Homo sapiens: one gene and its partners. The protein of the gene in region 2 interacts with the protein of the main gene of each other region in a pairwise test. Each region holds a gene or a part of one and is shown on either strand. Other genes may lie near its edges. The genes, in order: CMC4, EWSR1, MVK, CETP, CFAP298, BNIP3L and PRUNE2.

Evidence for each region.
Region 1: the proteins of EWSR1 (region 2) and CMC4 interact in a two-hybrid assay, tested with the Homo sapiens proteins (one large-scale study listed by IntAct).
Region 3: the proteins of EWSR1 (region 2) and MVK interact in a two-hybrid assay, tested with the Homo sapiens proteins (2 studies listed by BioGRID and IntAct).
Region 4: the proteins of EWSR1 (region 2) and CETP interact in a two-hybrid assay, tested with the Homo sapiens proteins (one large-scale study listed by BioGRID and IntAct).
Region 5: the proteins of EWSR1 (region 2) and CFAP298 interact in a two-hybrid assay, tested with the Homo sapiens proteins (one large-scale study listed by BioGRID and IntAct).
Region 6: the proteins of EWSR1 (region 2) and BNIP3L interact in a two-hybrid assay, tested with the Homo sapiens proteins (one large-scale study listed by BioGRID and IntAct).
Region 7: the proteins of EWSR1 (region 2) and PRUNE2 interact in a two-hybrid assay, tested with the Homo sapiens proteins (one large-scale study listed by BioGRID and IntAct).

What each region holds. Positions count from the first base shown.
Region 1 is NC_000023.11:155,061,137-155,064,636, forward strand, and holds the end of CMC4 (cx9C motif-containing protein 4), read right to left. Parts: exon of another isoform or gene 2,898-3,500; 5' UTR 2,888-2,897; coding exon 2,830-2,887; intron 856-2,829; coding exon 707-855; 3' UTR 486-706; downstream 1-485.
Region 2 is NC_000022.11:29,292,268-29,295,767, reverse strand, and holds part of EWSR1 (RNA-binding protein EWS), read right to left. Parts: intron 3,281-3,500; coding exon 3,162-3,280; intron 1-3,161. UniProt on the Homo sapiens protein: Binds to ssRNA containing the consensus sequence 5'-AGGUAA-3'. Might normally function as a transcriptional repressor. EWS-fusion-proteins (EFPS) may play a role in the tumorigenic process.
Region 3 is NC_000012.12:109,583,794-109,587,293, forward strand, and holds part of MVK (mevalonate kinase), read left to right. Parts: intron 1-2,228; coding exon 2,229-2,332; intron 2,333-2,960; coding exon 2,961-3,006; intron 3,007-3,297; coding exon of another isoform or gene 3,298-3,372; intron 3,373-3,500. UniProt on the Homo sapiens protein: Catalyzes the phosphorylation of mevalonate to mevalonate 5-phosphate, a key step in isoprenoid and cholesterol biosynthesis.
Region 4 is NC_000016.10:56,968,450-56,971,949, reverse strand, and holds part of CETP (cholesteryl ester transfer protein isoform 1 precursor), read right to left. Parts: intron 2,565-3,500; coding exon 2,430-2,564; intron 2,340-2,429; coding exon 2,269-2,339; intron 2,037-2,268; coding exon 1,949-2,036; intron 918-1,948; coding exon 848-917; intron 630-847; coding exon 569-629; intron 1-568. UniProt on the Homo sapiens protein: Involved in the transfer of neutral lipids, including cholesteryl ester and triglyceride, among lipoprotein particles.
Region 5 is NC_000021.9:32,605,878-32,609,377, forward strand, and holds part of CFAP298 (cilia- and flagella-associated protein 298), read right to left. Parts: intron 1,840-3,500; coding exon 1,772-1,839; intron 1-1,771. Other genes in the region: CFAP298-TCP10L (uncharacterized protein LOC110091775), read right to left, coding at 1,772-1,839. UniProt on the Homo sapiens protein: Plays a role in motile cilium function, possibly by acting on outer dynein arm assembly. Seems to be important for initiation rather than maintenance of cilium motility.
Region 6 is NC_000008.11:26,386,054-26,389,553, reverse strand, and holds part of BNIP3L (BCL2/adenovirus E1B 19 kDa protein-interacting protein 3-like), read right to left. Parts: intron 1-3,500.
Region 7 is NC_000009.12:76,896,115-76,899,614, reverse strand, and holds part of PRUNE2 (protein prune homolog 2), read left to right. Parts: intron 1-3,500. UniProt on the Homo sapiens protein: May play an important role in regulating differentiation, survival and aggressiveness of the tumor cells.

The DNA of each region.
Region 1 (3,500 bases), on a different chromosome or scaffold from region 2:
TGAATTAGTTTAGCATGTAATCTATAAAAGGTATCAAAATTGGCTCACGCCTGTAATCCCAGCACTTTGGGAGGCCGAGGCGGGCAGATCACGAGGTCAGGAGTTCAAGACCAGCCTGACCAACATGGTGAAACCCCGTCTACTAAGAACACAAAAATTAGCCAGGCGTGGTGGTGCATGCCTATAATCCCAGCTACTTGGGAGGCTGAGGCAGAATTGCTTGAACCCGGCAGGCAGAGGTTGCGGTGGGCCGAGATCGCACCATTGCACTGTAGCCTGGATGACAGAGTGAGACTCCATCTCAAAAAAAAAAAAAAAAAAAAAAAAAAGGGCGTCAAAATTGTGATGCTGGAAGTGAGTCCTTTCACCTAACATACCTCATATGACTTAAATTTGATGAATGGCACTAGTGGCTTGAACTTCAAGAGAATTCATTAATACCCTATATCTAATAGTCTTAAAATACATTTAGTACAAAACCCAAATTTTTCTCTTAAACAGGTTTATTTTAGCAGCTCAGTATATTACATTCTACATATTTGTCTTTTAATGTGTTTATATTTCTGCCTGTTCTGCATAGATGGCATATTCATTAACTTTTGTAGCTGACTTTTTCATTTGCTATTTGCTGCTACCTGGCCTGAAGAGTCAGGAGGATAAAAAAAATTCATTTGGTGGAAACATGGAGCAGCACTTCAGAAGAACTTTACTTTGATGCAGACTTCCGTGTTAGGTTTTCTTCCTCTTCTTTTTCAAATCCTGAACAGACGACAGATCTTCCCTTGGGATACTGAGCACAACACTTACGCAGTTCTTGGATGACAGCCTGACACTTTGATTCCATGTAGCTGTTGGCTGAAAAACATACAGGCAGACTCTAGTCATGATCTCATAGGACTAAGGTACAGGGAGGTTTAGATCAGTGCTTCCCACCCCTTTTCACTTTCAGTACCTATGGAACTGGAAGAAAGAAGATATACCAAAGTCCACTGAATTCTTTCTAATTTAGAGACCTGTCGACAGGTTCGTTAGGGAAAGTATGATTTACAAAGTGGTTGAAAGCTATTTTAATATATAATTTCCTTTAAGGTTAATAGCATGTATGCACCTTTTTCTAGGACATTGGTTTTTAACATCATTTTTATTACTGGTCACTAATTTGATGAATTAGGAAAATGCACATACACCACACATTATTTTGCATACAGTTTAAGCTGATTGTTGGACCTCCCCTACTAAGGCTGTGCATCAGGAATTGGCAAACTGCAGCCTTAGGGTCAAATTCAGCCGGTTTTTACAGCTGGGAGCTAAAAATGGATTTTAATTTTTAAAGGGTTGTAAACACACAACACATACACAATATATACAACAAAGGCCTTTGGCCTCCAAAGCCTAAAATATTACTTGTTTGGCCTTTTTCATAAAACATTTGCAGATCCCTACTATACATAAACACTAAGTTAAGGAGGACCTGACCTAAAGACTCTAGGTCAGCTGCAGTTAATGAGTCCCCCAGTACTAAAATGGAGTACATGGTAGTTAGCTCAGGATAGGAAAGACAATTCTGATTAGAAAGGCAGTATAGCAAGGTGGGTAACAGTCCAGATTTGGAGCTAGACCAAGGGCGGGGTTGGCGGGGGGTGTTCAAATTCCCACCATACCTCTTACTAGCTATGTGACCCTAGTCAAATTACATAACTTGTGTGTCTGTTTTCCCCTTTATGAAATGGGGGTCATAGTAGCATCTACCTCATGGATGAAAGGCTTAATACGTATAAAGTCCTTATAACGGTGCTTGTCATCTTTTAGTCTTTCCAGTTCTTAATCCTCCCACACTGCCAAGGGGGTGTCACCAGCTCTTTTTAACTTATTTTTTTCCCTTAGCTATGGGTTATTTCAAACAAGGTAAGGTTTTATTTGGGAGAAGGAATTAAATGCAAAAAACTTTTTCCTTTTCCTTAAAGTTGGAGGGAAGAAGTTTGACTAAAATGGCATTATTATACATCCAGATTTTAATCTAAAAGATTTTATAAAATATTGCTAACATCAAAAAATGAAAAGTCCAAGAATGAAAGCTAAAAGTCCAAGGAGATACACAAACAAAGGATTTCTTTGGTGGTGAATCTTTGGGGGAACTCTGAACATTTTTCCTTCATACCTTTCTATATTTTCATGACCTTCCATCTCCATCTATTACTTTACTAGTGAGGAAAACTTATTAAAATTTTTTCAAATTCAGATAGCCTTATAGCTTTTTCTATTTGCTCTTCTGGCAACAGTCATTCACTGATTAGAAAACTAAAATCCTCTAACATTTGGTCAAACTTAGCAGCTGGACAAATGGACAAATCACCTCAAATATGCTTTAGTCGAGATTCACTTCTGCCTTTAAGAGTTAGTTGATGACTTTGGCAGCCTGAATTCCAATTGTTATTTCAACCGCACCTCTTCCAGATTGCTTTTAAAAAGTGAATTGTCAGCTGCAGTGAAGTATAACCAACCAATTTAAAACTAGCCTTTTAGTAAAAACAAACAACAACAACAAAAAACCCTTTTTTTCCTAGCCCTAGCCCTAGGAAGTCTGAATTGTTCTAGGTAAGTGTTTAAAGATCTCCAGGTGATGCTAATCACCTGGAGTGAAAACCCCTAGCTTTGATCACATTACTTTTTATTTTCTGCATCTTTGATGATACAATGAAGAGAATCTTCAGGATAATTACATATACGTTACATTCTTAAAAAAGAGTTAATACAGATAAAAGAATAATTGGTCTCTTATAGTTAGTTCACAGTGGAAAAATATTTTTAAAGCATTTTACAATATACTACCTTGTAAACATTTCTGTATCTCACAGGCTTGCTTCTGGCACGGATCCTTCTGCGGCATATCCAGAAAACTAAAACAAGAAAAATGATTTTTATTTTTCTTTTTTCCATAAAGACTTTAAAGCCCCTCTACGTGGAATTTTCTTCTGAGACAAGCAGTATATGCCCTTACAATTGCTGGAAAATAATTACACTAAAAATACTCTTCCCAAACATAGGATGAATCAACTGTATTTTTATAATATCCATTTCATTAGGCTTGGAAGATATAAATAGCTTTACATGGAAAAAAAACCTTGAATTCAATCAACTCTTTTTGAATACTGTAAACCAACGTTAGGCTAGAGGAGCCGACGGCGCAGCCTGGCTCTATCATTCGCAGAAGAAACCCTTGATAAATGATTAAACTCCTTGAGCTTTTTTTATTACTCATATATAAAATGGGAATCATACCTACCTCAAAGCATTGACAGGAGGATTAAATGTGATAAAGTATATAAAGTACATACAATAGTGCCTGGAAAGGACTCCAATACATGGTAGCTATTATTCCCAAGACTTTTTTTTTTAAAGTAAAACCTTACTTTTAATGTATATAAACTGTTATAACTACTTTAACTCAGGAAATTCTTTACAAGTAGTAAATGTTTTCCTAGGAATCAGCAATATTTGGT
Region 2 (3,500 bases):
GATGACTAGTCTTTCAGCTGAATATCAGATGTGGTTGACTTGAATTCAGGAGCTACCTTGTATAAGAATATCTTCACGTGTACTTTTTTGCATTATATATGCACACGATCAGTTTAGTCTGTAATTGTTTACATATATCCAGTAACACAAGAGCAATCTATTTATAGGACTTAAAAAAGATTACAACAGGATATATATATTGATACCTCTGACTTAAAAAAAGGAACGTGATACCTAAAAACTGAAAAGAAAATATGGCAAAACTGTGGTATGAATAATGTGGAAATGCATTTTTTTCTTTTTTGTGAGACAGAGTCTCACTCTGTTGTCCAGGCTGGTCTCAAACTCCTGGGCTCAAGCAATCCTTGGGATCCTCCTGCCTTGGCCTCCCAAAGTGCTGGGATTACACATGTGAGCCACTGTATCCAGCTTGGAAATCTATTTTAACATCTTTATTTCCAAAATTTTGATGGTAAATACTACTTTCTTAACCAGGATAAACTCCACATTCCTCAATAAACTACATGTTATATACATATTAAAAAGCAGTCTTTTTAATATGCTCAAGCCTGTACTCCCAGCTACTCAAGAGGCTTGAGGCTTGAACCCAGGAGGCGGAGGTTGCAGTGAGCTGAAATTGTGCCACTGCACTCCAGTCTGGGCAACAGAGCAAGACTCCATCTCAAAACAAAAAAGCAAACAAGGAGTCTTGCACAGGGTAGAATGTGACAGTAGACACTAAAAGCATTTTACTTTTGAGGTGTGTGTGATATCTGTGCACACACACACCTACAAGCAGGGAGAAATCACCTTATATAAGATTTACCAAAATCAACTGTATTTCCTTTTTTTTTTTGAGATGGAGTCTTGCTCTGTCGCCAGGCTGGAGTGCAGTGGCGCCATCTCAGCTCACTGCAACCTCTGCATCCTGGGATCAACTGATTCTCCTGCCTCAGACTCCCAAGTAGCTCAACTACAGGCGCGTGTCACCACACCCGGCTAATTTCTGTATTTTTAGTAGATACGGGGTTTCACCACGTTGGCCAGGATGGTCTCGATCTCTTGACTTCGTGATCCACCCACCTCGGCCTCCCATAGTGCCGGGATTACAGGCATGAGCCACCACGCCCGCCCAAAATCAACTGTATTTTTTTTTTTTTTTTGAGGCGGAGTCTCACTCAGTCACCCAGGCTGGAATGCAGTGGCGCCATCTCAGCTCACTGCAAGCTCCGCCTCCCAGGTTCATGCCATTCTCCCGCCTCAGCCTCCGAGTAGCTGGGACTACAGGTGCCCGCCACCAAGCCTGGCTAATTTTTTGTATTTATAGTAGAGACGGGGTTTCATCGTGTTAGCCAGGATGGTCTCGATCTCCTGACCTCGTGATCCACCCGCCTCGGCCTCCCAAAGTGCTAGGATTACAGGCGTGAGCTACCGCGCCCGGCCAAATCAACTGTATTTCTATACACCAGTAATAACCAGAAAAGTGTCATTTAACGAAGACCCTTAACCACAGCAACTTGAAAATAAACGAAACCTAGAAGTAAAACTAGTAAAATTTGCAAGACCTTTAAGGAAATCGATAGTCTTTACTGAAGATCTAAATAGGCTGGGTGTGGTGGCTCACACCTGTAATCACAGCACTTTGGGAGGCCTAGGTGGGTGGATCACGTGAGGTCAGAAGTTCAAGACCAGCCTGACCAACCTGGTGAAATCCCATCTCTACTTACAAAAATTAGCCAGGGGTGCTGGCAGGCGCCTGTAATTCCAGCTACTCGGGAGGCTGAGGCAAGGAGACCCGGGAGGCAGAGGTTACAGTAAACCAAGACTGCGCCACTGCAATCCAGCCGGGTGAAGGAGTGAGACTCTGTCTCAAAGTAAAATAAAATAACAAATAGAGACAGGCCAGGCACAGTGGCTCATGTCTGCAATCACAAAACTTTGGGAGTTGAGGCGGCAGATCACCTGAGGTCAGGAGTTCAAGACCAGCCTGACCAACATGGTTTCACCAAACCCCATCTCTACTAAAAATACAAAAATTAGCTGGGTGTGGTGGCGGGCACCTGTAATCCTAGCTACTCAGGAGGCTGAGGCAGGACAATCGCTTGAACCCAGGAGCCAGAGGCTGCAGTGAGCCGAGATCGTGCCACTGCACTCCAGCCTGGTGACACAGCAAGACTGTCTCAGTAAATAAATAAGCAAATAAATATACAAATAAATGGAGAAATAAAATCTTCATGGGGAAAAAAAGATCACTCAGTATCATAAAAATGTAAATTCTCCTGAAATTACTTCATAGATTTAGTAAATATTCAATTGGGGTTTTAAGGTTTTGAGGTTTATGGGGTTCATAAACTAACTCTAATACAGAAGAGCAAGAACTGAAAAACAGTCAAAATCCCTGAAGAAAAAATCTGCGTTACTAGCTATGAAGAATTAGCATAAAGACACAATAATTTGAGGTTGGGTGTAGTGGCTCATGCTTGTAATCCCAGCAATTTGGGAGGCTGAGGTAGGTGGCCACTTGAGGTGGCCAGGAGTTAGAGACCAGCCCGGCCAACAGGCAAAAATCCATCTCCACTAAAAATATAAAAATTAGTTGGGTGTGGTGGCATGTGCCTATAAGTCCAGCTACCTCAAGAGGCTGTGGTGGGAGAATCACTTGAACCTGGGAGGCTGAGATTGAGCAACACTCTGTCCCTAGGGGTGGAGGAGGGAAGGCCGGGCGTAGGGGATCACACCTGTAATCCCAGCACTTTGGGAGGCGCCAAGGTGGGCAGATCACCTGAGGTCAGGAGTTTGAGACCCGCCTGCCCAACACGGTGAAACCCCATCTTTACTAAAAAGACACAATTAGCTGGTGGCGCACACCTGTAATCCCAGCTACTTGGGAGGCTGAGGCAGGAGATTCGCTTGAACAGAGGTTGCAGTGAGCCAAGACTTGCGCCATTGCACTCCAGCCTGGGCACCAAGAAGGAAACTCCGTCTCAAAAAAAAAAAAAAAAAAAGGCTAATCTTTTTTAAAAAGGAACAAACCATAAGATACCTAGAAAGAAGTCAGGCAAAGGCAACCTTAGAAAACAACTCTCAACATCAATTCAATCTCTTTAAAATGCTCTGTGGTTTAAAGTTCTGCCAGATGACCTGGTTATGCTTTTACTGACCTTAACAACCCCACACTGCTTAAAGAAGTCTGCCAGATCATCTAGAGTCACACTGTCATTTAATCCTTGTACATAAATTGCACTGTTGTCAGAGTCTTCATCTGGATCTACAGGTGGGCCTTTCAGAGACAACAAGACAGGAGAATTATTATCATGTATCTATAGGGGTTTCTTAACTACCTGATCACTACTGCCCAAGGATATTCATCATAAATCTAAGAAAACTACCAAGCATACTAAGAAGAATGCTATCAAACTTTTGGTTTACTTCACTTAAGGCAATTATGAGTAGATGCTCACATAGGATTTCCCAAACTGTCCTTGACAGCAAGAATATCA
Region 3 (3,500 bases), on a different chromosome or scaffold from region 2:
AGTGTCATGGATTTGTTTGTATTTGAATACTGATCGCTTTCTGACCTTCACTTTCTCCATTAGACTCTAAGCTCCAAGAAGTCAGGGACCTTGTCTGTTTTGCTCCCTACTAGGAGCTTAGTCACAGGCACATAGCAGTTGCTCAATAAATGCTGAATGAATAAGTGAGTGTATCTTGTTGGCACCATTAAGTTAGTAGCTAAGAGCTTGGGCTCCAAGTCAGCAGATGTGGTCCTGACCCAGCAGTGAGTAGCACTGTGATCTCCAGGATGCTGTTTGACCCATCCAAGCCTCAGTTTCCGTTTCTGTAAGAAACAGGATAATTATTATACCTTCCCTGTAGGGCACAATTGGGAGGATTATGAACCATTTCTCAATGGTCCATTTGAGAAAGCATTTAGCACAATGTTTGGCACATGCTAATCAATAGTATGTTAACTGATGTTAACTCATTATTAATCATAGTCTCACAGCTACCATGTGAGTTGCCAAGTCCGTAAAAATCCTTATTTGGCAGATGAAGAAAGAGACTCAGAGCAGGTAATTGACTTGCTCAGGGCTCACAGCAAGTAAGTGATTGAACCAGGCCCCCAGGCGCTGTGACCCCAGACGGCCTATTTTGAGGGGAGCACATCCTATCTCCTGGGCATTACACAAAGCACTTGTGTATTTTTTCCATCTCAATATCCTCAGTGAGATAGACACTATTATCCCTGTTTTATGGATGAGAAAACAGGGTTTAAGGTGAAGCAGTTGCTCACAGATGCCCAGTGAGTCAGTGATAGGATGGGCTCCAAAAAGGGCTCACTGGCTGGGCACGGTGGCTCACGCCTGTAATCCCAGCACTTTGGGAGGCTGAGGTAGGCAGATCGCTTCAGGTCAGGAGTTCGAGATCAGCCTGGCCAACACAGCAAAAACCCATCTCTACTAAAAATACAAACATTAGCCAGGCGTGGTGGCAGGCGCCTGTAATCCCAGCTACTCGGGAGGCTGAGGTAGGAGAATCGCTTGAACCCAGGAGGCAGAGGTTGCAGTGAGCTGAGATCGTGCCACAGCACTCCAGCCTGGGGGACAAGAGCGAAACTCCATCTCAAAAAAACAAAACTAGGCTGACTGCTTACTCCATAACTCTGCCACTGAGCCACATCATTCTCAGAGGTCAGAAAACCACCTTTAGCTTCTGCTGTTTCATGAGGAAGGGAATCTGCAGAAAGGAAACAAAAGCTGAGAGAAAAGAGTGGGGAAGTGGGGTTGATCATTTTGTCTTGTTCCATACTCATGTGTTTTGGGTCTGTTCATTTAAACTGTTTGTGAGCCCACACCTGGTCCATGGAAGGCAGTGAGGCCACGTGCTTGGGAGAGATCCAGACATGGTTGGGACGAGCCTGGCCCCTCCAGGGGTCTCTGGGGCTCCTGGGATTTGAATTCATAATGATCGTGCTTTGGATCTACTTGCAGGGCCCTGGGAAAGAGTCACACCTCTGCCCGTTCTTCTTAAAGGCAGGCTTGGTTCAGGTGTGGACGCTTATGCAGAGGTCTGTTATAGTGGCAGTTGCCACCTGCTGCTTGTGGACACCTTGCCATCATTAGACACACATGCAGCTAGCCTCTGAGGAGGGTGGGGGTTCCAATTCTCCAGGGAAGGATAATGAGGCTCAGAGAGGTTAGATAACAGGCCCAGAGTCACTCAGCTAGTAAGAGGCAATGCAGGGGCCAGGTGCGGTGGCTCATGCCTGTAATCCCAGCACTTTGGGAGGCCAAAGCGGGCGTTCGAGACCAGCCTGTCCAATATGGTGAAACCCCGTCTCTACTAAAAAATACAAAAATTAGCTGGGCGTGCTGGTGTGCACCTGTTGTCCCAGCTGCTCGGGAGGCTGAGGCAGGAGAATTGCTTGAACCCGGGAGAAAGTGAGCTGAGATTGCACCACTGCACTCCAGCCTGGGTGACAGAGTGAGACTCCGTCTCAAAAAAAAAGAAAAAAAAAGAGGCAAAGTAGGACCACGGGAGTCCAAAGCCCAGGCTGTTTTGACTGCGCCAGGTGGGCTTCAGAGGGAAGGGCGCACACTTGGCACGCTCCGTAGCTGGAGAGGTTCAGAGTGGACTTGTTCTTTCTGAGCTCAAGGGCCCAAGCTCCTATGCCCCTTGGCCTGCCCAGCACAGCCCCAGGTGACCCCTCCCCAGCCCCACTCCTCACTGCCACAGTAAAGATGAACATCTGTGTCTTCAGGTGGACCAAGGAGGATTTGGAGCTAATTAACAAGTGGGCCTTCCAAGGGGAGAGAATGATTCACGGGAACCCCTCCGGAGTGGACAATGCTGTCAGCACCTGGGGTAGGTGTGGCCTCAGGTTTATTTTATTGTTGTTATTTTAAAAATTCTTATTACAATGGTAGGTGCCCAAGAGTCTGTGCTGGTTTGGGAGGAATCGAATCAATGGATTCTGGAAAAAATAGCATTTTCCTATTTTGGGGGGAATGGGGAGAAATCTTGGGGCCCTGTCTCACACCCCCTGAATCAGAATCTCCGGGGGTGGAACTGGGGCCTGGGAAGCTGCAGCTTCCACGAGCTCCCCAAGAGAGTTGTAGGTTCAGGATGCAGAGCCGTTGCCGTGGAGTTTGCACACCATCCAGGTGGCCTCCCCTCTGGCAAGAACTCTTGCTTACAGGGCCCAGATGCTGTGTCCTGGGCCCCACCTTCACCATGTGGCTTGTCGGGGGAAGCTGGACAGTCTGGAGGGAGGGGGACCCAGGAATCCAAGGCCTGGCAAGAGCTTCCTGGTGGGGCTTCGGGGACCTTTTGCCCTCCTGCACCTTTTGTAACTGAAGCTGGGCTGACTCATTACTTAGCCTCTTTCCTGAATGGGGCAAAATGAACCCAACCCAAAGTTCAACCTCTCTCCCAAGTAGCACAGATATGTTAGCTTTTCCCACAGCTCTGACCCACTGGTTTTTCTCTTTAGGAGGAGCCCTCCGATACCATCAAGGGAAGATTTCATCCTTAAAGAGGTAACCTGGGGGTGGAGCAGCACATTCAGCCATGGCTGCATTGATGTGTGCAGGGGGCAGAGCTCTGCACCTTTGGGAAGTACCATAGGAGGCAGGTGTCCCTGGCTCTTCATCCCCCAATGTGGCCCTCACAGTGCACTAGCTGCAAGGAAGCAGGGGTGGTGGGGAAGACCTGCTCTCTCCTTCTCCCCTTCAGCTCTTAAATTGCAGAGATATCAGAAAGGGAAAGTCATGCATGGCTGTGCCCGTAGACTCTCAGCTGCTCATTCATTCATTCCTGTATTTGCTTAGTAAACAAGAATCCATTACTTCCTGTGTTCCCGATGATGCTGCACTGGGGCGTAGGAATGGAGAGATGAAGCTTGGGTACAGTTTCCAAGGACTCTCAGTCTGCTTGTGGGGGTGGGGCCAGACACACACAAAAGCCGCCACAGGACAATGTGAGAGTCACCATGATGGAGGCACACAGGGCAGAGGCAGGATGGAAGCGGGAG
Region 4 (3,500 bases), on a different chromosome or scaffold from region 2:
ATTGCCCTGAGTCACCGCTCCCCTGCATCCACACAGCTACCCAACCCTCCAGCCTCAGTGTTCCCCTCTGTAAAGTGGGACCTGGGTGTGCGGGGAGGGGTGTGGCACTTTTTCATTCTCTCTTTTCCCAAGTCTGTCTGTCTGGGTAGGTAGAGCCCTTCTAGAAGGTTGGTTCAGAGCAGAGTCCAAGACTTGGGCTGAAACCCAGCTCTGCTCTGTACTGCATAGGAGAGTACAGTACATGGATGAGTGCCCAGCCATGTGAGCAATCTAATTATCTTTTTTCCTAATCTACTTCCAGGAGAATCTTGGAGTCCTCTTGGACTTAATCACCCATTTGTCCTGAGTTCTATAGACTTGCCCAACGCCACACAGCTTGTGAGGCTGCAGCCCAAAGGGGCAGAGATTTGCCAAAGTATGCTCATAACTAATCATCAAGTGTCAGAGCCAGATAGAGCCCATGGGACCTAGACAGGAAGAGTGACAGTCCCAAGGCCACATAGTGCAGCAGGTGGCTTTCTGGCTCCCACTGCTGTCTTCTGAGGCATGCAGACAGAAACGCACTCACCAGCCCTTGTCTGGACAAAATCGGCCATGATGTTAGAGATGACGTTGATCTCTTTGCAGATCTGGGGCAGACAGAGCAGGTGCTTTCCAGGCAGGAAAGGAGGCCAGAGGCAGTGCCTCCTTCCAGCTGCGTGGTGGTGGCAGTGCTGGGGACCGGCACAGGGGACTGGCCACATGGAGAAGGTGGGAGTGGCACCTTCTCAGGGAAAGGCAGGGAGGAAAGGGATCCAGCCTCCTGGGCATGGCCCTGGACCACAGGGAGTCAGCCAGCCTCACTCACCTGTCCCTTCAGGACCAGCTTCAGGGTGAAGGAGATGAAATTTGTGAACAGCTGCTTGATCCACCCAGGCCTGAAGGCAGCAAGCACCACAATGAGCCCCTGACCAGTCCTGTGCATCCATGGAGCGCCTAGTGTGTACCAGGCACCGTTCATGGCTCTGTTGGCCCTGACTCTTGTAGCTCAGGAAGTAAGAATTATCACTCCCATTTTGCAGCTGAGAACACGGAGCCTCAGACCCAAGAATTAACTGTGGCACCATCCCAGAATTCCTCGGGAGGGCCCAGCTCCTGTGACGCTCACACCTGTCACACACACGAGAACGTGTCTAGAGTCCAAATTCATACATGTATCCGTCTGCTCCAGAGTCAGAAAATGGCCTGAATAGAGGGCTCCTCTCCAGACCCCACCCACCAGTTCCCTTCTGCCTTCCAGGTTTGGCATTGGTAACATGACTAGGGACTCTCCAAACCTTGTTATCTTCCTCTGTGCAATGGGGTTACCCACAGCTCCTTGACAGAGGGTGTTGGCCAAGACAAAAAGCCCCACCCTGGGAAGCAGGAGAGTAAAGTATCTAGGAACTCAGCTTCTGGGGTCAGAGAATGCTGGGTTCAAATCCTACTCCCATCCCTTAGTGGCGAGTTGTGTGTCCTCAGCAAGTTACTTAGCTTGGCTAGAGTTTTATCTCTGAGTTAGTGTGGTGCTTGGAATGCAGGATGCACTCCGTAGATATGAGCTTTTCCTTTCTAACCTCTCTGTGACTCAGTTTACCCATATGTAAAAAGGGGATGATAACAGAATCTATATCCTAGGGTTGGTTTTAAGGACAAAATCAATTAATTCATGAAAAGGGCTTGGAATAGTGCTTTGCACACAGCAAGTTCTTAATAGCTGTTAGTTACTAGCTGTTGGTTATTGTTGTTTCCAGCCTTTGAGGGTGTATTGATGGGAGGGGGTAGGAAGTGACCCCACTGAAGGTATTGCTGCCCTCAGGTTTGGCCACCCACAAGCATGCCCTGTGTGGGGTTGAGCCTGGAAGGAGCCGTGGACACACTAACAGGATGGGCACGAGCAGGAATGGGGGCCACAGGGTGGTGTACTTACTCTCGCTCCCCTTGGAGATGCAGGAGCAGCTTATGGAAAGACAGGTAGCAGTCAGGGGCATCGGTCCGCACTCTACCAGAGTCACAGGCTGCAGGGAGACCCGACATGACCTCAGGGCAGCCTCCGCTATCAGATGGTATCCACATGCTGCCCAGGCCAGTCAAGAGCTTGGCCAGCTCTGGGGTCCCCACCCCTGCAAACTTCCCAGGCTGGGCCTCCTTTGGTGGCCCCAGAACCCTCTGCCTGCACAACCTCCCCCTCTGCTGAGGCCAAGCCCTGGAGTCCAGCTCCCACTTCCCCAGAGGACGCTTGACACATACTCAGCTGTGTGTTGATCTGGAGGTCAATGGCAGAGTCGATCTCGAAGTCAATGGACTGATCAATACCCAGCCTGGAAAGAGCCAAGGACCCAGGACCCTCATTCAGCCCTCCAGCCCAGAGAGGGCCAGGGCATGGGGCATCAGCTGACAGGAATGCTTACCACCAGGCAGTGGTGTAGCCATACTTCAGGGTCCCCTTGAAGACCACAGACACGTTCTGAATGGAGACATCAATGGACTTGGCTTCCACCAGCTCCACCTGGCTGCTGGCGATGGACAAGTGGCTGATCTGGATGCTGGGAAGGAATGGAAGTGAGGAAGGATGTTGGGGGTCATCCAGGGAGCCCAAGGAGTGAGCCTCCAATTTTGTCTAGGCGAGGGTGGAAGATAGAATCATGGCCCCCAAAATGTCCTCCTAATCCACAGAACCTGCAAATATGTTACCCAACATGTCAAACCCTGGGTACCACACTCAACTCGTGTTACCCATATGAAAGTATGGTTAAGTTAAGGACCTTGGGGTAGGTGGGGAGATGATCCTAGGTTATCTGGGTGGTCCCAATACAATCACAGGGTACCGAAAAGTGGAAGAGGAGGCAGAAGAGGAGAGGAAGGGGAGAGGTGACCAGGGAAGAACGCCCGGAGAGAGTCAACCCTGGTGTGCTGAAGATGGAGGGAACCGTGCTCACAGGGAGATTTATATCTAGAAATGCCTATCTTTAAAAAAGAGAAAGATCTCAACTCAATAATCAAACTTTCCACCTTATGGAACTTGAAAAATAAGGGCAAACTAAGCCCAAAGCTAGCAGAAGGAAGGAAGTAATCAGGATCTTAGTGCCTATGAATGAAATAATAGAACAAAAACAACAATCGGTGAAAACAATAGCTGGTTTTTCCAAAAGATCAACAAAATCAACAAACCTTTAGCTAGACTGGCAAAAAAAAAAAAAAAGAAGAAGACTCAAATTACTAAAAACAGAAATAAAAGCAAGGCCATTATTACCAGTCTTACAGAAATAAAAGGAATTATGAGAGAATACTACGAACAATTGTATGTCAACAAATGAGGTTAACTAGATGAAATGAAATGGACAAATTCTTAGAAATGTAAATGGTATATGAAGAAGGGTGAAAATTGATTCGGAAGAGTATCAATACACCACCAGAGGTAAAGTTAGATCAAAAATAGGTTGGTGGGCCAGCGTGGTGGCTCACACCTGTAATCCTAGCAC
Region 5 (3,500 bases), on a different chromosome or scaffold from region 2:
TGAATTGACTGGCAGGACCCCCAGTGGGCATCAGAATGCAAAAGGCTACAGGAGAGCCTTAAAGAAAGCCACAGCTGTGGAAGTGAAAGGAAGAGGTGGACTTAAGAGGCATCATGGGAGCAGACGGTACAGAACCCCACTTCAAACCTAGAGGTGACAGAAGGGAGAAGTGTTGAAGATGACACTGAGGATTTGCCCTATAAAACCAAGACACTGTGGTTCTGTTACTGGAAACAGAGAAGCTCATAGGAGGTGCTGATTCTCAGGGACAGAACAGAGAGGGAGAGGAGTGAGGAAGCAAAGAGCTCATTTCTAGAAAACTGGACTTCAAAGTGCTGACTGGGTGTTCAGATAGAACCATCTCACAACCAGCTGGAAATTCAGGTTGGAAGTGAAGCAAGATGTCAGGGGGAAAGGATGGAAGCTTCAGAGTTATCTGCAGAGGGTGGAATTTGCATTTGGCAGAGTAGATAAGATACTGAGAGAGGAAGAAGACCAAGGATAAAAAGTACTTTCAGAAGTACACAGGCAAAGGGGAGAAGTGAGGCGACCGAGAGAGGAGTTCCACAGCAAAGTGTGGGGAGAAGGGTGCAGAACAACAGCCAGACCACTGTTTTCTTGCCATGGCCTGAGACGTGCTCACATGCCTAGATGCCATCACCACGCAAACGACGGGCTCAACCAGGGCCTCTCCTGTAGAGCTTCATAAAGCCTTTCCTATATTAACAGGCACAGAGCTTCAGGGCAGCCTTTGCTGAGGCTCTTCAAAGATTAGTCAAAAGCTTGGTAAGTTTGAGAAATATTGGTTTAAAAATAACAGTTCTGCTGAGCAAACCAGGAGAAGCAGAAGAAAAAGTGGTGATCAGTCAAGAGACTTGCAGTTGAGAGCGGTAGCAACTAATATCACCAACACACAAATACAAGCAACAGATACAGATACCACTTCTTTCAATAGCCTTAAATTCTCTTCCTCCAGATACACATTATCTGTATATCAATGGTATAAATTTACGCTCCTCCCTCTATAAACTAGCCTTTGTATAAAATGCTGAAGACAATTACAAAAAACCATTTATATCAAATACATATTAAGTCAATCAAGTGTCTGGAGAGCTACTCGATGGCCACAATATTCAAATCTCCCCTACTTAACTTTGTTAAGTTCTTCAAAAAGGTAAAAGAAATGAAATCAACATTTGTATTATACATATTTGTATTATACGTGAACCTATATTTACATAAGCCAACAAAAATTTGTGTCTGCCTGGAGGAACGGAGAGGCCTCTGGGCAACCGTCAGGATTATGAAAGGAAAAGCTACAGCCTACCCCAAATACGCTTGTTTCCTTTGCCTCCGGAAGGCTGAAAGAGAAGGCTGGCTGAGAGGCAACTCTGGAAGCCAGAGTTGGAGTTTTATCTCAAAAGACAAGTTTTAGGCCGGGCGCGGTGGCTCATGCCTGTAATCCCAGCACTTTGGGAGGCCAAGACAGGCGGATCACCTGAGGTCAGGAGTTCGAGACCAGCCTGACCAACATGGAGAAACCCCGTCTCTACTAAAAATACAAAATTAGCTCGGCATGGTGGTGCATGCCTGTAATCCCAGCTACTCGGGAGGCTGAGGCAGGAGAATTGCTTGAACCCAGGAGGTGGAGGTTGTGGTGAGCCGAGATCGCACCATTGCACTCCAGCCTGGGCAACAAAAGCAAAATTCCATCTCCAAAAAAAAAAAAAAAAACCCAACAAGTTTTAGTGCATCATTTAAAAAAGCCAACCTTAGATATTATTGCTTTGGCTTCTTCTATAGTCTTCTTTAACACTTGCTTCATCTTCTCATTTGGAGCTATAAAAATAAAAAGGAGAGAGGGAGAAAGAGCTGTCAAATACAAAGCCTCTTCTGAAATACCTCAATCCCCTCTGTCTGAGTCAGGGGGTAAATGAACTGAGAGAGAGTGCGAGTGTGGAATTTAGGGAAGAGAAGCAAGAAACCTGGCTGCCGGAAGTTAGGTGAAGACCTCTTCCCAACAGCAGAGACCTGGAGTGTGCTTTACGCAAAGTGGCAAAGGCTACAAAAAACAGAAATGCATGTCGTTGGGTAAACAGGGCCGGTGAACTTTTTCTGGAAAGGGCCAGAGAGTAAAATTTGAGGCTTTGCAGGCCACACAGTCTTGTTGGGTGGGATAACTCAGCTCTGCCACGTAGCACAAGAGCAGACAATACTTAAATAACTGGGGTAGCTGCGTCTCCTTACAATTTTATTTACAATAGGCAGCTGGCTAAATTTGACCTGTAGCCCATAATTTGGTGACCCCTAGATCAGGAAAAAATAATAACTTGAAAGCTTAGAAGCCAAAAAAAAAAAAAAAAAAAAGAAGAAGATGGAATGCCCAAACCTAGGGAAAATGGGGCAAGTTGAAACCATACATTCCTAGTAAATAACAGTATTAATTAGACATTGAAAATATTAGAAACACAAGATTGTATTATAATAGAAGTGGTTAGGCTGGGCGTAGTGGCTCACGCCTGTAATCCCAGCACTTCGGAAGGCCAAGATGGGTGGATCACCTGAGGTCAGGAGTTCGAGACCAGCCTGGGCAACATGCTGAAACCCTGTCTCTATGAAAAATACAAAAATTAGCCGGGCATGGTAGCAGGCATGTGTAATCCCAGCTACTCTGGAGGCTGAGGCAGGAGAATCACTGGAATCCGGGAGGCAGAGGTTGCAGTGAGCCGAGATTGTGCCACTGCACTCCAACCTGGGTGACAGAGTAAGACTCTGTCTCAAAAAAAAAAAAAAAAAAAAAAAAGGTGGTTAATTTAAGAACATATTACATATTGGTTTAATGATGAATAATGAACTGTTAACTGGTTCTCATATTTTTTTTCCTCATCTTACCACATCTTCTTACGTAAGAAAGCTGTGGAAGACAACCATTTTTCAGGTTAACATTGAAAGGAAAAAATACTAGGAATTCTTACTATCCCTGATATTTAAAAAAATGTATTTTTGAGCTGCTAAAGGCCTTGCAGGAATACTGTTCTTTTACTCCTAACAGTGTTTTAGGGCTGTTCAATTACAGTGTTTTAAATGGCGCTTTTAATGCAGGTTAAAAAGAATAAGCTATCAAAAAGGATTATCATCAATTCCACATGATCAGCCAAACACTGAAAGGAGAGGAATTTCCTCAGTGTTTTGCCGTGTACTGAAGTGCTCTGCCCCAGAGAGAAGCATGTCCTTGATCAGGGAAGTCCATGTGCTGACATGCTTTCCCTTTCCTCTTTCACACAGTCCATCTCGAAAGATCCCCCAACATTTGCGAACAGTAACAAAACACAACTCTGAATACATTGCGGTGAGGACCTGCCAACAATTATTAGGTGGAAACACATGAAATTGCCAATACTCAACCATTTTTGAGCTACAGAAGGGAAAGGGTCATTTCATCTGGTTCGTCGAATACATATAAAAGCAAGCTGCAACTTATTAAAGAGCAAGACAAAAGC
Region 6 (3,500 bases), on a different chromosome or scaffold from region 2:
ACCAATTCCTTAGGACTCTGCTGCCAAACGACACAGTTGTACAACATCTCCATGGCCTCATTCTATACACACATAAAATGGACACAGGCTAGAGAACTCAAAATGGATTAACAAATACAACTAGCAAAGCTAAGAGAGATCTAACATTGAAGATAATTTATCTCGAGTGCCTCTGGAGTGTATAAGAAATACGCCAAAAGCATCCCTAAATTTAGAGCTCTGCAACATATTTCAACTGGAGAGAAAGGGGGTGGGGGAGAGAATATGTATATAAAAACAGTTTTTTTTTCTGACTCTCACTGTTTCTAGGATTTTCAAACTTATTTTTAAACCAATGGGACCAGTTCTTCTTGTATAGAAGCCTAATGTGTACAATAGTAACAAACCAAAACCCAGAGCTGCTCTGACAGAAGCAGAGGTAAGGAACCAGGAGTTCCAGATAGGTCTCTGTGGAAGTCAGTCTTCCCTAAAATACAATTAATATTCACTTGAAGTAGGCAATCGAAGAGAAAAAAGGGTGTAACAAACAATATCAGGTTTTCTGGTCCTTACTTTTGTTTTTCTTTTGAGACAGTCTTGCATTGTCACCCAGGCTGTAGTACAGTGGCACAATCACAGCTCACTGCGGCCTTGATTCCTGGGCCCAAGCAATCCTCCCACCTCAGCCTCCCAAGAAGCTGGGACTACAGGGCACATGCCACCATGCCCGACTTATTTATTTATTTATTTATTTATTTATTTATTTAGTAGAGACAGGGTCTCCCTACATTGCCCAGGTTGGTCTCAAACTCCTGGGCTTCAGCAATCCTCCCACCTCAGCCTCCCAAAGTGCTGGGCTTACAGGTATGAGCCACTGCTCCCAACCTGGTTTTTACTTTTTTGAAGGACTTTCAAATCAATGTCTGGATCCTATTTTCTTCATTAAAAACACATAAGCAATCATAATCCAATATATACTTTTGGAACCTGAAAGAGACATACCTAGAAAAGCTTAGTAAAAGTGATCTCTGCTGTGGCCTCCACACCCTGAATCATAACTGAAAGCATTTCTACTTAAGGCGGACAATTTGTACTTGGGATACACTGGTATAGTGTGGTCAGGGGCTGAGACTGAAGCCAGGCTCCCACTCTCAGTTATAGCTGTTACCCTCGCACAGGGTACTTAACCTCTTTGTGCCTCAGTTTTCTCATCTATAAAATAGAGATAATAACTGTATCTACCTCGAAGACTTTGTTAGGAGGATTAAATGAATATAGCACGCAGAACAATAAGAAAGGTCCCTAAGAAAGTTTTAGCTACTACAATTATATTCTATATCATAGAAAAACCATTCCTTACTGGAAAAATGTGTTCCTAGAAAACGTAAACATCAGTACATAAAATTAAAAATTAACATCTCTCCCAACCTCCCGTTCCTACTCCCAAAGGAGCCACTTTTGACAGTTTCACATGGAGACTTGCAGAGTTTTTGTCAATGAAATATAGGTCTGTTTTTGCTTTTGTTTTTATAAAGAAATGGAACTGTACCATACACACATACTGACATATTCTGTAAGTCGTTTTTCAGATGTCTTCCCTATCAATATATACTGACATTCATTCTTTTGAACAACTGCATTGCATCTCATCTTTTATAAAGATATACCATACTTTAACCATTATCTAAATGGCAATGGTTAACTACTACTGAGATGGTTGTTTCTAATACTTTGTTATTACAATTAGGGCTTCAGTGAACATTCTGGAGAATAATTTGACAATAGGTATTAACAGCCTTAAAAGTGTAGATTTCCTTTAATTAATTAAGGGTAATTCTCTTTCAAAAATATCATCTATGGAAATACATAGTGGTACAGAGAAAGTTATGTACACAGGCATTAAGAGGCTACATATTAATCTTTTGAGTAACACATAAAAAAGCAAATGTGTCTTCCTCAATAGATGAACAACACGTCTGTTTCCCATCACCCGATTTGTTCCTGATTTACAGCCTCAGAATTTCTTAGTGTTCTAACTCTACCAATCCTCACAAAGTCCCTTTTTACTTGGAAAGGAAACAAGGCTAGATAAGAGGTTTGTGCTGTCCAAGCAACACAAAGTAGAAAACAACCACAGAGTGAATTCTCCTCCTAATGATCAAGCTTGAAAACTAAAAGCTGGAAGCTTTCTCCATTATCTAAAAGACTTTACAAACTAAGAGCTGTTCCTTATGCCAATTTGTACATAACATACAATGACATGAGATATTTTCTGGTTTGGGTTTTTGGGAATGACTAAGAGATTCAGAGAAACTTCTGTGAATGCTTCTCCGTTCTCTAACATAATAGACTGTGAAGGGTGGTCCAATAATTGTGATTATACTCATTGCCGTATGTTGTATAATCTTTACAGTTTTATAATCACTAGTTCAATCCTCTTGCAAGAAGAAGAAGAGAGGAGCTTTGGGACAAGGGGAGGAGAGAATGAAGAGTATTTCTCCTCATCTTTCCCCCTAACTTTTCAAGGCCCACATGTAACTCTTTTGAAATTTCATTATATTTACATTCTTTCCTCAAAGCTTTTCATTCATTATTGAAAGGAATCCAGACCAGGCCAACCTGATGCTGAAATCCAGACCAGGCCAACAAGAGTTACTGGCATTCTTCTTAAATAAAAAAATAAATAAATAAATTTTTGAAAAGTTGGTCTTTTTGCAGCAGTATGTATTTACATACAAGTTACGTAGGTATTCAAAACATTATTATGAGGCAGTGACAATCCATGAAGGCCTTAAGAGCACTCTTCATAACAAGAAAGCAAGGACATTGTGCTTGAAGATGTTTCTATTTAAAAAAAAGAGTTTGTGACCAGCTTGGGCAACAAAGCAAAACTCCATCTCTACAAAAAATAAGTTAGCCGGTGACCAGCCTGGGTGACAAAGTGAAACTCGAACTCTACAAGAAATAAAATAATTAGCTGGATGTGGGGGTGCACACCTGCAGTCCTAGCTACTTGGGAGGCTGAGGCAGGAGGATCACTTGAGCCCAGGAGGTCTAAGCTGCCATGAGCTATGACTGTACCACTGCACTCCAGTTTGGGTGACAAAGCAAGACCCTGTCTCAACAAAACAAAAAACAAAAAAGAACAAGAAAATTTGAAAAGAAAAAAAAGGCTATACTTCTCAACAACAAGAATTATACTACGATTTACACTACTACTTTGATTTTCCTTATTCGGCCCTATTGAATCTTATTCAAACATTCTTAAGGAAGTTGATAGTTTTCTTAACAATAAAACAAACTGGACAACATCCTTTTGACTTGGAAGGAGTTTGGGTATTTGCCCTGTAATTTTTAATGAAAGTGAACAGTCTCTCCACAGCGGTAAAGTTAAAAAAAAATCACAAAAATACTTCACTATTCAAATACTTCAGTAATTTGCTATTGAAACCCTGCTTTGACCCCTGAACCAAAGATAAAATCCCAAACGCAAGATAATCTGTACATTTCTTCTCCTGTTT
Region 7 (3,500 bases), on a different chromosome or scaffold from region 2:
GCTCAAAGAGTGGTTTTAGAATTAATAAACCCTAAAGGCAAGAGTCCTGCACAAAGCATGACACTTTGTAGTGGCTCAATAAAAATAAATAAACGGAGGGCCAGGTTTAGATTTTTGGAGGTCTGAATCTGAAGAAAGGCTATTGTCAGGAGGCAGGAAGCCATATTTGTTTGCTAGAAGAAGGTGAAGGACACTAAAGTCAAGGAGCACCATATTGTACTTCATACACAGTAAGTACTTAATACAAAGTGTTAAGACAAAATAAAAATCTAATTTTTATGCATGACTGCTTGGGATCTATAAATATTGGTTGAACTAAAGCATGAATGGAGAGAGGCAGAGGAGAGGAATGGGGCACTAAAAGCCTCTGCAAAACTGCATTGGGTAGATCAGCCAACAGTGGAACCATTGGAACCGTAGGTTCTCCTCCATGTGGCTCAAAGACTAGAAGTTGGGCTCCCCCAAGGCCAACCACTGTACCAAGTCAGCCCAGCCTAGTCTCTTGCTGCCCCTTGACCAGTGCTAATATCATGAGAGAGATTGGCAGGGAAGCTGTTCAGAGTCCTTGAGAGAAAAGATTAGGCATTCCAGACTTCCTGTCCAGCCCTGGCACTGCAGACCTCATGTGTGGGGTAAACCCATGCATGATCCTGAGTCAGACCTCTCGTCCAACTAGTGGGACTGTTTGTGGTGGAGCGTGATCATGGTCTTCCACTTCATCTAACTCTCCTGGATGTGACCAGACCTTCCCAGGTTATTTGTTTTAGCCTGTAATGCCAGAGTCTTTTTGAACTGATGATGTCTAGGAAAATTGCATATCTTTGGCTCCATGCATTTGATATTTCTTGCTTTGGCTTCCCAGAAGCTTAAAGCTATGTTGGTGCTTCATTTTCTTAGCCTAGGATTTCCGAACTAAGGTTTTTTTTGTTTTGTTTTTTTAATTGTTACTACTTAGTTTTAATCTCATTATAGTTGTTTTAATTTTTTTACTTTAATGTATATGCACTTTTATTATAAGTAGGTTATCCTTTTGGTTACTGTCAAGAATAAATAAATACATCTTATAATAATATATATGATCTTGAGTATATATTGGTGACCAGTCTGGCCTAATTCAGGGTTCATCTACTCAAATTTGAGAATTAGCTTTTTGTAGTAATGGAGAATATAGTGTGGGACTTCAGAATAAGTAGCTGAAAGGAAACATCAACACAGTCCAAAGATTGTCTGTGTTCCCATCCTTGATGATTGCTGACCTCCCTGAGAGCAGCAATAGCCACACTTCCTTATATCTGAGCCCATAAATGGGGAACTGTGAGGCAGTCCCTGGCAGAGGCTGCCTGCCCTAAATCAGATCCTGGGAGATTTTCCTAGAGTATGAGTTGTGGATTTAGGAGACCCTTAGAAGGACTTTTGTCCTCCTTCCCACTTCTTGCCCCCTAAAGGCAGTACAGCCGGGCGGCTAATCATGTGGAGCCAGTGCCTGATTTCAAATCCTAACCCCGCCACTTTTACTTGCTAGTCACACAATCTTAGTTTCTTAGCCTCCCCGGGTCTCAGTTTCATCATCTGTAAATGAGAACAGTAGTAGCACTGGCCTCACAGGGCTGCTGCATGTGTGTATGCCCTGAGACGAGGACGTGATCTCCAGGCACAGTAATAAAAACATGAAAAGGCCACTAGCAAACAAGAGCCAGGAAGCCCTATTTACATTTCACAGAAACAGGAACAATTCTTAGCTGTCTTGCAATTCAGTTAGAATTTGTGGAATATCTGTCTTAGCTCTAAGAGATACTTTTAAAATTTGATTTAACTCCCACAATGGTCTTGTAAGGTAGGTACTAATCTCCTTTTGCAGTTGCCAAAACTGAGGCTCAGTGAGGTTAAGAGGTTTGCCCAGGCCAGGTGCAGTGGCTCATGCCTGTAATCCTAGCACTTTGGAAGTCCCAGGCAGGCAGATTGCCTGAGGTCAGGAGTTCCAGACCAGTCCAGCCAACACGGTGAAACCCCATCTCTACTAAAAATACAAAAAAATTAACTGGGCGTGGTGGTGTGCATCTATAATCCCAGCTACTTGGGAGGCTGAGGCAGGGGAATTGCTTGAACCAGGGAGGTGGAGGTTGCAGTGAGCCGAGATCATGCCTCTGCACTCCTTCCAGACTGGATGACAGAGCGAGACTCCATCTCAAAAAAAAAAAAAAAAAAAAAAAAAAAAAAAAAAAAAGAGGTTTGCCTAAGGTTGCATAGCCACAAAGAGTAGAGCTGGAGTTTGCTTCCGGATCACCTGACTTCAATTCTAGGACCTTCTTCCTCATACCATAAGCACCTCTTCCCCCAAGATCTCCTGGAACATTTCATTCTTGTTAAATTAAAAGTGAACAGCTTGACAAGTTTATAGGAGGGCTGAGTGGTAAGTTAGTGAAATTGCACATATATTGTTCACGCTGACCCAAGAGGGGTTCATTCTTCTGTGTTGCTTGTTTTATGTTAAAATCTTTTGGACAACAGAATATCAACCAATGTTACTGAAATCCTGCTATGAGAAAAACATGGTGTTAGGCCATCTGAGATTTGGTTGAATACATTGTGAGATTGTTCTCACTGCATGCCCATTTGAAAGAAAATTAACTGATAAACGATTGGGAGGAGAATGTGTGTGATTAGCTTTTAGAGTAATTAGAAATGTTATGGGCATCATTTGGTGAAATGTTAAGAACAAGAATGCATTTTTAAAAGAGTTTAAATGCCTCTTATTTGCCACCAAGGTTATTTGGTTTTGTAGTTTCTTCACTGTTGCCACTCTCTTATTGGTGGCCTTAAATACCACTTTGATGGATTGACCGATGTCAGGGGGTCTAGGCAGGAGAAGATCCAGGGTTAGAACACAGCTCTCGGTTGTGTCAAGTCCACTTTGGCTCTCCAGTCTGCTGGTTTAGCAGCGCCCCAGAAAACTGTTGATTATGCTCACGATACACACAGAAGTGAAGGAAAGGGGAAGAAAGGAAAGAAGGAAGGTGGAGGCAGAATTGGAGGGGAAATAGGAGAAAAGAAAGCGATGAAAGGATTCAAGAAGGAAGCAAGTATGAACATCCTTCCACAATTCAGGACAGGATGCGTTGTAAGTGCAACAGTTCTTATGTCCACGGTCACTTCCCTGGCACATCAGCCAACCCAAAGTTACCCCAAAACTAGGAATTGGGCAAAGGCAACTAAAGTTGATTATTGAAAACCTATCATCAGTTAGTTCTTTTCTCACAGGAAAATTCCCTAAGTGCAATCTCTGAGGCTATTTGCGAGATGATACTTGTAAATCATTCACAGAAATGCTGGGAGCATAGCAAAACACATGAATGCTAGCTACCATCATTGAGGTTATTATTTAATGTGCACTTTGACACAGTGTTCACCAACCTTGTTTTCTCAGAAGGGGATGATGGAAAGGGAGGTGGCTGCCAGAGGCTGTAATAGATGATGACTTACGATGGGGAAACTACACAAAC